Linked DNA regions of Homo sapiens: region 2 is linked to region 1. The links come from fine-mapping of genetic effects on gene expression. Tissue or cell type: thyroid. Region 1 holds a variant in brackets; the other region holds the start of a gene. All regions are shown on one strand. Distances are from middle to middle.

Region 1 (8,259 bases):
ATGCTTTGTTGAATGGTGTAATTCCAGGGAAGGAAGAATGAGGCAACATAAAAGCAAGGGAAGGAGAAAGGAGAGAGAGCACATACAAGAGGATGTGTTGAGCTTGTGAAACGCTTCCAGAAAGGCTGTATGAGACTCCTGCTCTTCAGAACAGTATATGGGGAGGGAGGAAGGGCAAGGTAGGTGTTTACTGTACCTTTCCCATAATCTCTTTCTCACTGATGGATCAACCATGGATCTCTGTCTCCCCGTGGATCAAAACCATGGGTATTAATCCCCAAACACCATGAGGGGGCAACTCTAGGCAGCCTCTGGGAAGCTGGAGCCTCCAAGGCCCAGACTGGCTCTTGTGCTGATGTGGCCAGCTCTCTTCATTCACTGGTGCTGTGAGTGGGAGCTTGGTTGGTAGTGGCAGCAGCAGCCACTGGGACTTTCCATAGGAGTAGGATGAGATGTCACTGGGTCTGCCCTGGCTAGGACATGAGACACATAGCAGAGACCCAGGTTGGATAGGTAGGGCTGAGTGGATCTTCTACTACGTCACCTTCCTCACCAAACTCATCCTCGTAAACACAGGTGAATGCATTGATGTCATTATGTGCCAAAGGTTACCACTGCCCTTTTACCCCAGCCACCGGTGCCTACTACTCAAGTGGTGTGGTCAACCCAACTCCACAGTCCCTTCTTGAGCTCCAGCTTTCTAGGGTCACACTTGACAGTGGTTGTCTGCATTTCCTAGAGAACAGAACCTGAGACAAAAGTTTCCTTGCTGATGGTTTATTTAGGGGAAGATGGTGCAAGTCCCAGGAATCATGTCTGAGAAAAAGGGAAAGTGAAGCAGAAAAGGAGTCAAAGCAAATACAAGGATGTGTGCTACTGGGCTGACCACAGCATTGCAGTAAACACAGGGGGTTGCTCAGGACCCTGGGAGGTTTCTAGAAAAGCACAGGGAGCCACCCAGGCAGCTTCCAAGAAAGCCAGGGCTCTAGTCAGGCCAGTGAGTAGGGAAACGGCCTCTCCATCATGTTAGCACAGTACACAGGAGCCCATTGGGTTTTAGAGACAGTGGTGGCCATCAAAATTTTTGACTATGGCAGGGAGAATAATGTCCCTCCCAAGATGTCCACAACCTAATCCCCAGAACCTCTGAATCTGTTAGCTTACACAGCAAAGGGGAATTAAGGTTGCAAGTGGAATTAAGGTTGCTAATCAGATGACTTAAGAAGAAGAAATTATTCTGGATTGTTCTTGGTGAAACCAATGCAATCCCAAGGGCCCTTAAAAACAGAAAGGGGAGGTAGAAGAGAAGGTTGGAGCGATGGGTTGTGAGAAAGACTCTACCAGCCTCTGCTGGCTTTGTAGGTAGTGGAAGGGGCCGTGAGCCAGGGAATGCAGGTACCCTTTAGAAGCTAGAAGAGGCAAAGACATGGATTCTCCCCTGCAGCCTCCAGGAGGAACATAGTCCTGTCCATAGTCCTGTCCTTGATTTTAGCCCAGTGAGACTTATGTCAAATTTCTGACCTACAGAACCATAAGCTAATAAGTTTGTGTAGTTTTAAGCCACTTAATCTGTGATAACTTGTTGCAGCAGCTATGGAAAATGAACAGAGTGACCCCAGGAGCAGATGATTGTCCCTGGAGTCTGCAAGGTTACTGGAAGGGGTGGCGTGTGGTCAGAATCTGATTGGAGGCCTCTAAAGGACTTATCAGATTTGGCATCCTGGAGGGTGAGTTCCCCCCGAGGTGAAGGTCCTCGTCACCGTGACAGCTCCCCTCCACGTCAGTGTCCAGAGCACTGCAGGGTAGCTTCCACCTCACTGGGCAGCAGTGTTCCATTCTCTGTCCTTTGTCCATCTCCAGACTCTCTCATGCTCAAGTACGTTGCTCTTCCATTGTGTTAAAAGCATTAGGAACACCCTCTGTGTGTTAGAAAGGCAGCTTTCTAAACTGCCTTTCTTGAAATATTTATTGAGCGCTTACTTTGGGAAAGAAGGATGCCTGCGAATACAGGGATGAACAAGACAGGTTCTGAGTCCATTTTCCTAATGGGGGGACAGGACATTAAATCTTATGAGCATATGGCTGGGCATGGTAGCTCATGCCTGTAATCCCAGCACTTTGGGAGGCTGAGGTGGGTGGATCACCTGAGGTCAGGAGTTCGAGATTAGACTGGCCAACATGGTGAAACCTCCTCTCTACTAAAAATACAAAAATTAGCCAGGTGTGGTGGTGCATGCCTGTAATCCCAGCTTCTCGGGAGGCTGAGGGAGGAGAATCGCTTGAACTCGGGAGGCAGAGGTTGCAGTGAGCCGAGACCAGGCCATTGCACTCCAGCCTGGGCGACAGAGTGAGACTCCATCTCAAAAGAAAAAAAAATCTTATGAGCTCACCAATAAGTATAAATTCACAAATGATGGTAGCTGTTATTATGAAAAAGCTCTAGAAGCTATTCAGATTCACAGGAGGACATGCATGAGATCAGGGACTCAGGGCAGGCCTCTCTGAGAGGTGACATTTAAGCTCATGCTTAAATGATGAGAAGCTTGGGCCACACAGAACTTGGTGGTCAGAACAGGCAGGTGCATTTCCTTGAACCCGGATGTGTTTCCTACCAACCAGGCAAGGCTTTTGGTTACATTACTTCAGGTAGGAGCTTTCTCCTGCCCAATTCAGCAATATCTACAAGATGCCCCCGCTGTCTTGTGTTAGAATATCAGGTGAAATGTATCTGAGCACATGGGATTCCTTCTAACAGTTGTTCAATGAAGAGCGTTGGCTCTGGGATGATGGACACAGGGAATCTCCCCCATCCTCAGCACGTCTCAGGAGTCTCTGCTGAAATTTGGGTCTTGTTTGGTCGAAAGAGAAAACCGTGCCTGGAGTAGCTGTGGAATAAGGGAGAACCGTCTTGGCCCTGGAGGCAGAGAGGCCTGGGGCTGGATCTCAGCTCCACCATGGACTAACCTCACAGCTTGGGCAAACGGCCTTCCTCTTTGAATGAGCTTCCCAAGCTGTGAAATGGAGGTCACAATGCCTGCCTCAGGGAGAGGTTGTGCAGGTTCAGCGAGGTGATAGGTCCTCCACTTCTGTTATATCCAAGACATTCAAACAATTATAATAACACACTATGATGTAACACTATTCAAATAATTATTAACCCCATGCAAGTTCAATTTTTATGATGTGGCAAGATGCATTGCCCCCTCCATTATAATGAGTAGGGGTGTGTGTTTGTGTGTGTGTGAGAGAGAGAGAGAGAGAGAGAGAGAGAGAGAGAAAGAGAGAGAGAGAGATTTGAAACAAACACGCCAGTCAGAGTTGGTGCCATGCCCTCAGAGAGGGTGTCATTCACAGTGGGAATGCAGAGTCAAATGTTTCTTAGCACAACAATGTGCTGGAATAGTTTCTCTTAAAGGACAAGGTCAATGTTGTCTTAACAGGAGGAATAACCTTTTCTCATGTGGGAAACATTATGACTTGCTCTGATGTGGTGTCTTTGGGCCTTACGTAAACTCTGAATGAGGATTCCAGGCCACGCTTTCTCCTCGCTCCTGGGAGCAGAGCCCGCACCCTCCTCTTTGGTTGGTTATTTTATTTTAAAATAACTGTTTCAGTTTAGAATAGTTTTAGATGTATAGGAAAGTTGCAAGAATATTACAGAGAGTTCCCGTATACCCCACACCCAGTTTCTCCCATACACACCTTCTACTTTGTGACTCAGCAAGGATGGAGTTGGGGAGAGCCTGTGCTGGCACCCAGCGGGAGCATCTTAACAAAACAGAAGGACCCAATGGGTCACCAAAGGAAGGGATAGAAGCTGGAAAGAAGCAAGGGTGGAAGAGAAGGTGTAGAGAAGACCCCAACCGCGGGTGCAGGAGGCAGCGACAGTTACTGAATTTCCCAAATTTTTAGCAAACTTCCCTCCCTCAGCCTGTACCACGAGCAATCAAAAACACACTTGGAACAGAACAGAGGGACTTTGCCACACCTGGAGTATATTTCGTATTATTTCCAGAGCAGGTGGTGTAGGAAATACCTATTGCCAAATAAGAAATGCTACAGACAGATCAAGTCAAAGTGCATAAGGAAAAGAACCGTTTTAAATGCTGAAATCTCAGAGGTAGTTAATACTTCTCAGAGGAAGAAAAGTGAGTTATTTGTAACTCACTTTTCACGGTCCTGATTTTGAGGTGTGTGTCTGCCATAAAAACATGCTAGTCTTTAGGGGGGCAAGCTCTGCTGTCTTGAGCTCTTTCTTCTTAGACTCTCAGAACAAATATGTAGATGTAATGTTTTTACTTAAGATTACACATATTGGCCAGGCGTGGTGGCTCATGCCTGTAATCCCAGCACTTTGGGAGGCCAAGGCGGACGGATCATGAGGTCAGGAGATCGAGGCCATCCTGGCTAACAAGGTGAAACCCCGTTTCTACTAAAAATACAAAAAAATTAGCCAGGCGTGGTGGCGGGCACCTGTAGTCCCAGCTACTCAGGAGGCTGAGGCAGGAGAATGGTGTGAACCCAGGAGGTGGAGCTTGCAGTGAGCCAAGATCGTGCCACTGCACTCCAGCCTGGGTGACAGAGCAACACTCCGTCTCAACAACAACAACAAAAAAAGATTGCACATATTTTCCATGTATTATTGTATGGACATGGCTTTAGGGTTCCTCTCCCAAACCATAGCAGACTCTGGAGAGAGGGTGGGGAGATCTCAAATTTTTCTGGGGCTGGATGATTGGGCACGTGGGTTGGTGGCTTTGCAGAGGGAACCTGTTGCTTCAGTGA[C/T]GTGGGGCAGATGGCTCAGCGGTGGATGGCGGAGCAAGGTGATTGCTGGCTGCCATCTCTTGAATGATCCTGGCATGAGCTCCTCCTGTTCCTCCTGGGATTGCTATGGAAACCCAGACTGAGTTGTTGTCTCTGTGTCGGGGCTTTCCTGGGTGTTTTTCCTCCTGGCCTCAACGCTTACAAATCATTCTTTCCTGTGTGCAGATCAGGTGATTCTCCCAGGCCCTGTCTGGGCAGGGTGACTGACAAGTCAATTTGGTCAGACAATTGCTTGGGCTGATTTTTCCATTGCACTGAGCTCCTTGTTTTGGCTCCTGGTAAACTGGGTTTGATCTGGGGCTGGGAGGTGGAGGTTGGGGATCAGGAAGGGAGGGAGGGGATGCCATGTGAGCCTTCTCTTTCTCAGGGGAGCCTGAGAGGGAACGGTGAGAATCCACAGTCCCCAGGTCTGAAGCAGGGAGCTGGGCTGTGTCGAGATTGGGGATGGAGGTATCATTCCCACTTTAAAGATGAAGACATTGAGTTCAGGGAGTTGAGCTGCTTTACCCAAAGCCACATGACTTACGTGGCAGAACCTGGACTCTACCTGAGGGCCTGGTGGGGAGCACGGTGTCCTTTTCGCTGCTTAAGTGGAGGGAGAACTGAAAGAAGCCTTTGCCTGATGTTCTGTGTCTCCTTTTTGTGATGGGGAAGGATTTTGGCTACTGTTTTAGGTCTGTGGTTCATGTTGCCCAAAGCACTGACGACAAATCTGCACATGACCTGACCTTGGGCTTTGGGCAACCCTCTAGATGCCAGTTCCCGAGAAAGACCCTCCACACTTTCAGCTTGCCCATCTGACTGATGGGAAGCTTACCCCTAGAAAGGCATGGCTGAAGCAGAGAACAGAAAGTGTGATCCTTGAGGCCAGAGACTTGGATGTTTATTTCGCTTCTGGTACTTACTAGCTTTGTGACCTTGTGCAAGTCACCTGCCCTCTCTGAGCTTTAGCTCCCTGGCTGAGCAATGCACAAGCCACCTGCCCTCTCTGAGCTTTAGCTTCCTGGCTGAGCAATGCAGTGGTTAATTATTGCTTGGCCTACCTATCAGGGTTGCTGTGAGGATTTAATAAGATTGGAAACATGGAAGCTTTTTGTAAGCCCATAAGGTCAAGCCAAGCCTCCATGCAAGAGCTATGTGGCTTTGATATTCTTGAGGCCCAGAAGGCAAGGCTGACTTCTGAAGCCATGGGTTTGGGGCTGGGGAGGGTGGAGCTGGCTCAGAGTTTGCAGCCATTCAGGGGCCATGTTGGTGATTTTTCCCTTAAGGAGGCCTCTGGTCTAGGGGGCCAGCCAGGGATTAGGGAAGAGGATACACGCTGGCCCATGCTTGTGCTTGGCAATGCCTTGCCACACCTGCCCTCTTTTGCCCCTCACATCTGCTGAATGGCAGGAAGATGGGCCATTGGGTGCAAAGAGGACACACTACAGTATGGCTATGAAGAGAGGGAGTGGCAGTGCATGCGAAGGCTGGAACTAAAAGGCAACTTGACTTCTTCCACTGGCGTGGCCAAGGTTGTCCATTTGCAGAGTCACGTCGTGCTTTACGTAAAAGCTGCTCAGGGAGCAGGGCTCAGAGATAATAAATGTAGCTGAGTTTGGAAACAGCCACATCCCCATTCACCACGGACAGAAGTGGGAGTCAGGGATGTAGCCCAGGGAGGCTTCACCCCTCACCCCTAGGCAGCCCTTTCTTCCTCGGCAGCAACACTGTGAGACCCTCCTCTTTTCACAGCAGGGGCCATCAGGCCCGGAAGTAGGCTTGGCCAGAGCCCAGGTGCAGGATCAAGCCTCACTTGAGGTTGGAGATGTGGAAGAGTTCTAGCCTCCCCTTCTGGGCTCAGCATCAAGTCCTACTGTCAGCCCGTCAGCCGCTGATGCTAGGGTTGAGTTATGCTAACCAGGCCTCGGCCTCCATCTAGAGCCCCAGCCTCTCCTCTCCTTCCCCCAACTGCTGGGATTCCCTTTTCTTTTCTTTTCTTTTCTTTTCGTTTCGTTTCTTTTCTCTTCTCTTCTCTTCTCTTCTCTTCTCTTCTCTTCTCTTCTCTTCTCTTCTCTTCTCTTCTCTTCTCTTCTTTTCTTTTTTGAGACAGTGTTTCGCTCTTGTCGCCCAGGCTGGAGTGCAGTGGCATGATCTCGGCTCACTGCAACCTCCACCTCCTGGGTTCAAGCGATTCTGCTGCCTCAGCCTCCGGAGCAGCTGGGATTACAGGTGGCTGTCAGCACATCCAGCTAATTTTTGTATTTTTAGTAGAGACAGGGTTTCACCATGTTGGCCAGGCTGGTCTTGAACTCCTGACCTCAGGTGATCCACCCGCCTCGGCCTCCCAAAGTGCTGGGATCACAGGCGTGAGCCACCGCGCCTGGCCAGGGTTCCCACTTCTAACAGCTGGGTCCATTCCCAGCTCTACTTCTTTCAGTCGCTATGAGGCCCTGTTTCCCTCCTCATCCTTTCTAACTGCCCCTTCTTAGGGGTAGTGGCCCATCCCTGGACCCCAGCCCAACATTGGTTCCTCTAAGCTCAGGATAGGAAGCAAAGTTCTGTGTGTTGAGGGCCTTTTTTTGCTTCTGGCCCTTTAAACCTAAGTAGATCAAAGAAGTGGATTCTAATTATTCCCATTGTACAGAGGAGGAAACTGAGGCTCAGAAAGGCTAAGAGACTTACCTAAGGTAACATGAATGGTAGAGACAAGATTCCAATCCACATCCACAGGGATTCAAAGGCTGTGCTGGGTCTTGGTGCAGTCACCCACCTGCCTGACGCCTGCAGGGGTCTGATTTCCAGGGGGATGTATTCCCCGTCCTGGGAACCTCCTGTTTGTGCTGTTTTGCTGAGAGCCAGACATTCAGTGCACGCCAGGGCCAGCCACATGACTCCACTTCAGACTGGTTCTTTGACAAAGTTTTAGATGTTCCTTATGGAAACTTAACCTTGAATCTGTTTCTCTGTCCTGCTCAATAGTTCTGTGTATTACTTAATGTGAAAGTAAGGCTCAGAGACAATAGCATTTAGAAAAAAAGAAAGAGCTTACTTGTAAAGAAGCTCAAGAGAGTCAGAATTCATAAAGACTCTGGTTTATCAAATAAAACACAACAGGAATTTAAGGAAAAAAGCACGACAAACCTTCCAAGGTCACTGAGTTTGTTTTGAGTCCATTCATGGCGGAAAATAGCAATTTTCTCACATATTATCACACCCATAAAAGTCGTGACAAATTTTTAGATATCAGCATTGCCCAAGTCAGAGATAAAAATTGTTTTGTTATGAAGTTAGCCAACTAAGGGAAAGGCTCAAGATTTCATTTGTTTTGGGGGGCCAGAACTAGATAGGATGATCTTCTTATTTTTGGTTTCTTTTTTCCTGGTTGGGAGACATGGTGTGTTCACTTATTCTTTATTTTTTAAATTGTTTTGAGATGGGGTCTTGCTATGTTGC
Region 2 (8,000 bases), 550 kb before region 1:
CTTTAAGATAACTCAAGGTCATTTGACTTTTTTTTTTTTTTTGACAGAGTCTTGCTCTGTTGCCCAGGCTGGAGTGTAGTGGCATGATCTTGGCTCACTGCAACCTCTGCTTCCCTGGTTCAAGTGATTCTCGTGCCTCAGCCTCCCCAGTAGCTGGGATTACAGGCGCGTATCACACCTGGCTAATTTTTGAATTTTTAGTAGAGACAGGGTTTCACCATGTTGGCCAGGCTGGTCTTGAACTCCTGACCCAAGTGATCCACCTGCCTTAGCCTCCCAAAGTGCTGGGATTATAGGCGTGAGCCACCGTGCCCAGCCAAGATCATTTGATTTTTTAAAAATTCATTTTTTCAGGTTAAATGCTGTGGTTAAAAAAATCTGAAATATGCTTGCTATATATAAAAAAAAAATCACACAATAGCTAGCTTCTTTTTGAGAGTAAAGTAATAAAATTGATAAATGAATAGAGGCTTACTAAACAGAAGTAAAGGAGACAAGAAAAAGTCTGGAAAAAAGTCAAGGAAGAAAGAAGAGCTAAGAAGTAGAAACATACTTTTGGGACAGAGTCTAATTAATCTCCATTTCTATTTTTTCCCATTTTGTAACTAAGAAGAATTTGATTTTTCAAATGCCTTGGTTTGGTGATAGTGATGGGGGGGCAGTTATGGTGTAAAAGCAAATATCAAGTAGACTCTTCTTGGTTAGCCGCATATTCACAATACGGTCACAAGGCTACAGAGGTCAACAAGGAGAGTTCACGCCCCTGAGGCTCTAAGTCTAGTGTTCGCCGCTGGGAGAGAGGAGAGGTTGTTTGCAGGTATGTATGCAGGCCAAGAAGGAAGTTTCTGTAGTGAATCTGAAGGGTAGAAGGTGAGGGCACACATAAGAGAGTTTCAGATAGGGCTGTTTACATGAGGAAGAGGTGGTAAAGGTGATGACAGGCTGTATCTCACATAGGAGTGCTTTATGGCTTAAAAAGTGTTTTGCGAGGCCTCAGCGAGTTTAAAAAAAAAAAAAGGATCTCAAGGCTGGCCTCTAGCTCAGGGCAGAGTTATTATAGACTAGGAGTTAAGTGCAGTGGAGATGATAAGGCATAAATGAATGAGCTATTTCCTGGTCCTGATTTAGGGCTCTCTAAAGTTAAGAGATGCTGGCCAGGCTTTATATCCAGATAAGACCCAAGTTGAGCTTAATCCTCAGAGCTATCTTATGAGGTAGTTTATTCTTACTCCTAATTTTATGAGTGATGAAACAGGCAAAGTCTCTCACCTAAGAGATAAGAATAGTAAGGCTGTGATGATACCAAACATTTAAGCACCTACTACTATTTACCCTTTACAGGTACTAGGTACTGTGCCCTTTATAGTCCCTCTTTCTCCTCTCCCTCCCCACAGAATCCTGCTCCTCACCACTCTTTGGGAAAGGCTGGGTCTCCTTAGGCTGGAGCTGGATGCTCAGTGCTTCCTGGGCTGCTCCCAGAGATTCCTTCTTCTCCCATGGCTCTTCCTGTGCAGGTCCATGTGCAGGGCCTGGGACCTGGAGGTGATCAGGCACCACTCAGTTTAAATTTTCTTCAAATTACTAGTGTGGTTTCTGTCCCCTGCCTGGACACTTGCAGATGTGACCCTCCTTGGACCAAAGCTTCCAAGGAGACTTTAGAGAGCCTCCTCAGAGTCAGCACAAGGGAAGAAGAGGAGCTAGAGTCTCTTTCTCATTCAGGGCTCGAGGGCAGAAAAGACAGACACAGAAACACATACTAACTGCTCTACCTGGCCCAAGAGAGGTTTGAACTTGGCACCTCCCCCTACAGCTGCCCCTCGGTCCAGCCTGAAGGTCATCAATCTGGCTCCCATAACAGACCAAATCCCCCTTCCCACCTGCGGCTCTGGTTCAAGTCCTTTCTCTAAATCCTCCAGCACAGTCACAGCCTCCTCTCCACTCTTAGGGTGATGTCCCCGCACCCAGGATTGGAGCTCCTCAGGCAGGATGGTCAAGAATTGTTCCAGCACCAGGAACTCCAGGATCTGCTCCTTCGTGTGTTTCTCTGGCCTCAGCCACTCACAGCAGAGTACTCGTAGTTGGCTCAAGGCCTCCCGGGGACCAGGAGTCTCCTGGTAGCGGAGATGCCTGAAGCGTTGGCGGAAGATCTCTTGACTGGTAGAGTGGTTCCCAGGTAGCCTGGTCTCATACTCACAAGACTGTTCCTCTTCCTTTGGTCCCATCATCATCATCTTCTCTTGTCCCTGTGTACCCTGAAGGGCCAGAGTTTCAGCTGCTGTTAGTGATACAGCCATCCTAGTCTGCACTAGCTCTGCAGAAGGCTCATACCAGCTGGAATCTTGCAAGGGCCCCCTGTAACATAAGAAGAAATCATTCCTCTTTTTTTTTTTTAAGACAGAGTCTTTCTCTGTTACCCAGGCTGGAGTGCAGTGACATGATCTCAGCTCACTGCAACCTCCACCCCCGGGGTTCTAGCGATTCTCCTACCTCAGCCTCCCAAGTAGCTGGGATTACAGGCGCCTGCCACCACATCCAGCTAATTTTTTTGTATTTTTAGTAGGGACGGGGTTTTGCCATATTGGCCAGGCTGGTCTTGAACTCCTGACCTCAGGTGACCCACCCACCTCGGCCTCCCAAAGTGGTAGGATTACAGGCATGAGCCACCGCGCCCGTCCTCCTCTTCTTTTTTCATTCATTAAACATATACATATACTCAACACTCCAAAGAGCCAAACCCTGTCCTATGCCCTGTAGTCCCGCTTTTTCTTCCACCCCTCCCCAGAATTCTGCTGCACTAAGTCAATGTTTTTGAGAAACTTGCACCGTGGTAGAAACGGGGATGTAAAGTGGTTTTCTATAATACAACTAATTAAATGCCATTGACAGGAAAAATGTATCAAGAAAAAAAAAGTTCTGGGGGCCTATGGGAAGAAATGACTATTGGAAGAAATAAGTTTGAAGCAAAACCCAAGTTTCCAGATGCAGAGCCCAGAGCCGAGCAGCTTTCAGTGCAAGGTGGAATGTGTTGGGGAGGCAGCCTCCTCTGAGATGGCTCCTCCCTGCTTTCAAAAATTTCTGAAGTAGTAGCTACAGCAAAAGAAAAATATAAGTCCCCTTTAAGGAGCTGGATCTCATTCAAATGCCAAAGCCCTATTAAGGGGCAGCTATGAACAAGTCTCGGGTACAGTGGCCTGCGTCAAGGAAATCTAACAGGTGTAAACCAAAAAAGCATCTGAGATAGGTCTCAACCAATTTAGGGGTTATTTTGCTAAGGTTGAGGATGCACCCAGGAAAAAGACACACAAGCCACAGTAGGATCCGTGGCTCGCACTTTTACCAAAGAGGGTTTTGAGGGCTTCAATTTAATGGGGAGAAAGCTGGCAGGAGGGGAAGGAGGAGAGAAGAGGGAGGGTATGTGGTGAGGTAAGTGGCCACATTCTTGTGAGGATTTGATTAGAGCTCACTGAATCCACATGTTGCACGTGAAAAGAGGAAGTCAATTATGAATTTGTCTCGTGCTCAGTAAATCTGCATTTTACACAAGATAAGGTAGACATACAGTAGAGGAAGAAGTCAAATATGCTTTGTCTCTGGGTGGGTGGAGGAACGATTTCTAGTCTTGTCCGGTGAAGCTCGGCTGTTCGTTTCCATTGCCAGGGTGAGGGAGGCCACCTGGGGGCATATGTTGCTTTCTATCTTGCAGCTATCGGTTTAGGAACAAAAGGAAAAGCAGTTTTTTTCCGTGACTCAGTTTCCAAGCTTAACTTTTCCCTTTGTCATAGTAAGTTTGGGGTCCTGAGATTTTATTTTCCTTTCACACAGGGAAGGAGGTGGAACGCATCAGAGGCCACGAAAGGAGCACAAAGGGGGACCGCTGGCCTAAGACAAAGGAGGCGCGAGGAAAAACGCGGAGCTCGCGTCTCCCAGGGTGATGCCCGGCGCCGCTGGCCCCAGCAAAACTTCTCTACCCCGGCCTCGGGCAGGTGCCCGCCCGGGGAGGGGGCTGTCGTCCAGGCCAGGTACAACTCCCCTTCCCACCCTTCACTCCCTACCCAAGGGTCTCGAGAAAAGAGAAGAGGAACATCAAGACCCCCCTCCACGGCACGTGACGCGACGCAACGCAGGTAGCGCAGCGCGGGCACCACGGGCAACCCAAACCCCTCTCCACACACAACCGCGGAGCTGCCTGCCAGGCCTGCTCACTGCAGAGCCGCCGCTGCCTGCGGGACGGGCAAAAGCCAAGCCGCCAGGTGGACCTCGGGGAAGCCGCCGCCAACACTCACCTCACAGGACCAGGAGGTTCCATCGGGGCGCTGCCGCGAATCGCGCCACTTACAGCCCTCACCCCAGGGGCAGGTTTGCGCCTGCGCAGGTCGCAGCCTCGGCCTCCAACTCCCAGAATCCTCCTCGCCGCCGGCTTCCGTTCGCGGACTTTGGCCCAGGCGCGTGGGCGCTGCCGAGAGGCTGGGAGCCCGGGAACCGGTTCCTGGACTTGAGCGGAGCGAGAAAGAGCGCGCCGCCTGCACGACTGGACTGGAGCGGCCGGGTGCCCTGGAGGCCCCTGGGAATTGCAGTCCTTGCGCAGGTGGAGAGTGAGCCCTTGTAAGCGGGTGACTTCATCAAGTTTGGGGGGTCTCTTGTGGAATTGTACCTGAAGGGCGGTGCTGGCGGACAGATGTCAGGGAAATTCTGGCCTTGTCCATGGCCTGTGGTAACACTTCTCCATGAGTTCTATTTTCCAATTACCTCTTCCCAGACCTGATGAGAGGGCCACAGCTAAGGAAGACGGTCCCTTCCACGAAAAAATATTCCCCAACCACTAGCCTGTACAATTCCTGGGGCGTAGGGGGAGGGGAGGAGAAAAAAGAATTCTAAGGTTAATTTTATTGCGATGGGGGAAATAGGGGTTGGTGTTTTTTTGTTGTTGTTATTTTTTATTTTATTTATTTATTTGAGACGGAGTCTTGCTCTGTCGCCCAGGCTGGAGTGCAGTGGCGCGATCTTGGCTCACTGCAAGCTCCGCCTCCCGGGTTCACGCCATTCTCCTGCCTCAGCCTCCTGAGTAGCTGGGACTAGAGGCGCCCGCCACCACGCCCGGCTAATTTTTTTTTTTTGGTAGGAGACACGGCGTTTCACCATATTAGCCAGGATGGTCTCGATCTCCTGACCTCGTGATCCGCCCGTCTCGGCCTCCCAAAGTGCTGGGTTTACAGGCGCCCGGCCGATTATTTTTTATTTTTTTTTTGAGACATGGTGGCCAACATGGTGAAACCCTGTCTCTATTAAAAATACAAAAAGGTTAGCTGGGCGTGGTGGCGGGCGCCTGTAGTCCCCACTACTCAGGAGGCAGGAGAATCGTTTGAACCCGGGAGGCAGAGGTTGCAATAAGCTGAGATTGTGCCACTGCACTCTAGCCTGGGCGACAGAGTGAGACTCCGTCTCAAAAAAAAAATTAATTAAAAATAAATTTATCTCACTATCAATTTTGCAGGATATTGATTGATCCAGTCTCTCAATACTTTTATAAAATAGCTTAATCCTAGTCTCTCCAAGAAAAATTGTTGTTCAACTGTGTAGTACCATAGTAACAGTTCTCAGATTCTCAGATTATTAAATTTGTTTCTCCAAGATATAGTATCCTTGAAAATGCGCATTGACACCCCCATGGCTGGGGGATATATTATCTTTTTTCCTTCAAAGTGCCATTGATAATTACTGCACGTAGGAGCTATGGATAAAAATAGTTATCATTTGTTGAATGTCTACTACGTGTCTAGAACTATGCCAGGAACTTAATGAAATTGTCTTATTTAGTCTTCACAGTTGCTCCACAAGGGATTGTATTAATGTCATTATCTTGATTTTACAGATGAGAAAACTCAAGACTCAGAAACAATAAAGGTTACAGAGATGAAATTGACAGAGCCTGAATTTCAGTATGTCAAACTTCAATGTGCCATTATACTTTTAAATCCTACAGAACAGATTGAATCACAACTTCTACTTTTACATGAGAGAAGACAATGGGTCCTATGACTTACTGTCAGTTTCCTTTTCCTGATTTAATTAGCTGCTTCTGTATCTAATTTTGCTAGGAATGGAGGAATAAGGCAAATTCCCTAAACTACATATTGACATTTATACTAATGTGAAAACCTCAAGTCCATTTGCAGACTTTTGGATTAGATTCTGTCCCAGAAAGACATCCACCCTAGAGTTCAGGATATCATACCCATTTTACTGTTCCCCTGGCACAATTCATAGTAAGGAAAAACAGACAAGGGGAAAGCTATTAGATTCTCGGTGCTGCTAAACAGGACACACAAGGACACCATTTTGTGATGATGATGGTGCTTTATGCAGCTTCCACCATTTACAAGATTTTCCTGTGGTGTGGAACCTCTCATGATAAAGCAAAGGAACTAGAAGCTTATTCCAGTCAAGATTTCTGATTTATCTTGTGGTAAGCATTTGGGAAGGACATATCTGCACATGACCTGAGACTAAGTACTATACACTGAATCAGATGAAAATTGCTCTTAGGAAGCTTACAATTTTCCAAATAGTTAGGACAAAAACAAACTCTCCTTCTCTCTTCCTATATGTACATACTGACATCTTTATCATTACTGTCTTCCTAGGGTTATGATTCTGTATGGTTTCTTTGGTGCTGCATTAGACCTGAGCTCTGATTGAAAATTCTTCCACGCTCGCTACATTCCAAAACTTTATCTCCAATATGAATTTCCAGATGCCTCACAAGGTCTGAGCTCCATCTGAAGGCTTTCCCATGCTTGTCACATTCATAGGGCTTTTCTCCACTATGAATTCTATGATGTCGAATAAAGTGTGAGCTCTGATTACAAGTCTTTGAACATTCATTGCATTCACAAAGTTTCTTTCCACTGTGAATTCTTTGATGCTGAATAAGTTGTGAGCTCCCCTTCAAATCTTTCCCACACCCAATGCATTTATAAGGCCTCTCTCTCACCTTGTATGGATTCTCTGATGTTCTGTAAGGACTGAGTTCTGGCCAGGCGCAGTGGCTCACGCCTGTAATCCCAGCACTTTGGGAAACCGAGGCGGGTGGATCAGCTGGGCTCAGGAGTTCGAGACCAGCCTGGCCAGCATGGTGAAAGCCCCTCTCTACTAAAAATACAAAAATTAGCCGGGTGTGGTGGTGGGTGCCTGTAATCCCAGCTAATTGGGAGGCTGGGGCTGGAGAATTACTTGAACCTGGGAGGTGGAGGTTGCAGTGAGCCGAGATCGGGCCACTGCACTCCAGCCTGGCAGCAGTGTGAGACTCCGTCCCAAAAAATAACAAACAAACAAAAAAGACACCAGAGGGCTTTGGGTCCCTCTCTCTCTGCCATGTGAGGACCCTGTGAGAAGGCAGCCAGGGAGCTCTCACCAGAACCTGACCATGTTGGGCCCTGGTCACAGCCTTGCAGCCTCCAAAACTGAGAAAATAAATTTCTGTTGTCTGGCATCCAGTCTATGGTATTTTGTTACGGCAGCCCGAGCTAAGACAGAGGAAAACTGGGGGCTGATGTGACGGCGGGGACTTTAGGTAGAAGGACCCCACGTCAAAAGTCAAAGCTAAAAATTCTGGAACGAGCCAGGAAGGCATCAGGACGTCTCATTTTATTTGCTAGAGGCATCTTTTGGGGGGTGGGGCGGTGGGTGGGTGGAAGGAGATGTGGCCAGTGAGCCTCTGACTTTTAATTGAGTTATTTCGAAACAAGGAACAGAGGGCCGGATGTGGTGGGTCGTGCCTGTAATTCCAGCACTTTGCGAGGCCGAGGCCAGTGGATCACCTGAGGTCAGGAGTTCAAGACCAGCCTGGCCAACATGGTGAAACCCTCTCTCTACTAAAAATACAAAATTAGCCTGGCGTGGTGGGGGGCGCCTGTAATCCCAGCTACTCGGGAGGCTGAGGCGGGACAACAGCTTTAACCCGGGAGGCGGAGGTTACAGTGAGCCGAGATGGCGCCACTGCA

What was found. PIP is the estimated chance that this variant, and not a neighbour inherited with it, causes the effect.
Region 2: ZNF232 starts here. The variant in region 1 is fine-mapped to the expression of ZNF232 in thyroid (GTEx, PIP above 0.99). The same link has a PIP of 0.9 or more in aorta, coronary artery, esophagus muscle, left ventricle, lung and prostate.

What each region holds. Positions count from the first base shown.
Region 1 is chr17:5,652,567-5,660,825 of GRCh38, forward strand. No RefSeq gene overlaps it. Among named protein-coding and RNA genes, the nearest start is that of NLRP1, 72 kb to the left of the region's middle. The variant C/T (reference allele first, on the strand shown) is at 4,786.
Region 2 is chr17:5,107,517-5,115,516 of GRCh38, forward strand. ZNF232 (zinc finger protein 232) reads right to left here and starts at 4,362. Exons shown (of 4, transcript NM_014519.6): 1 at 4,284-4,362; 2 at 1,878-2,352; 3 at 1,410-1,536. The coding sequence starts at 4,306. It overlaps ZNF232-AS1 (ZNF232 antisense RNA 1), which reads left to right and starts at 4,419. Exons shown (of 3, transcript NR_135658.1): 1 at 4,419-4,585; 2 at 5,870-5,936; 3 at 6,642-6,866. RefSeq lists an enhancer at 4,673-4,722.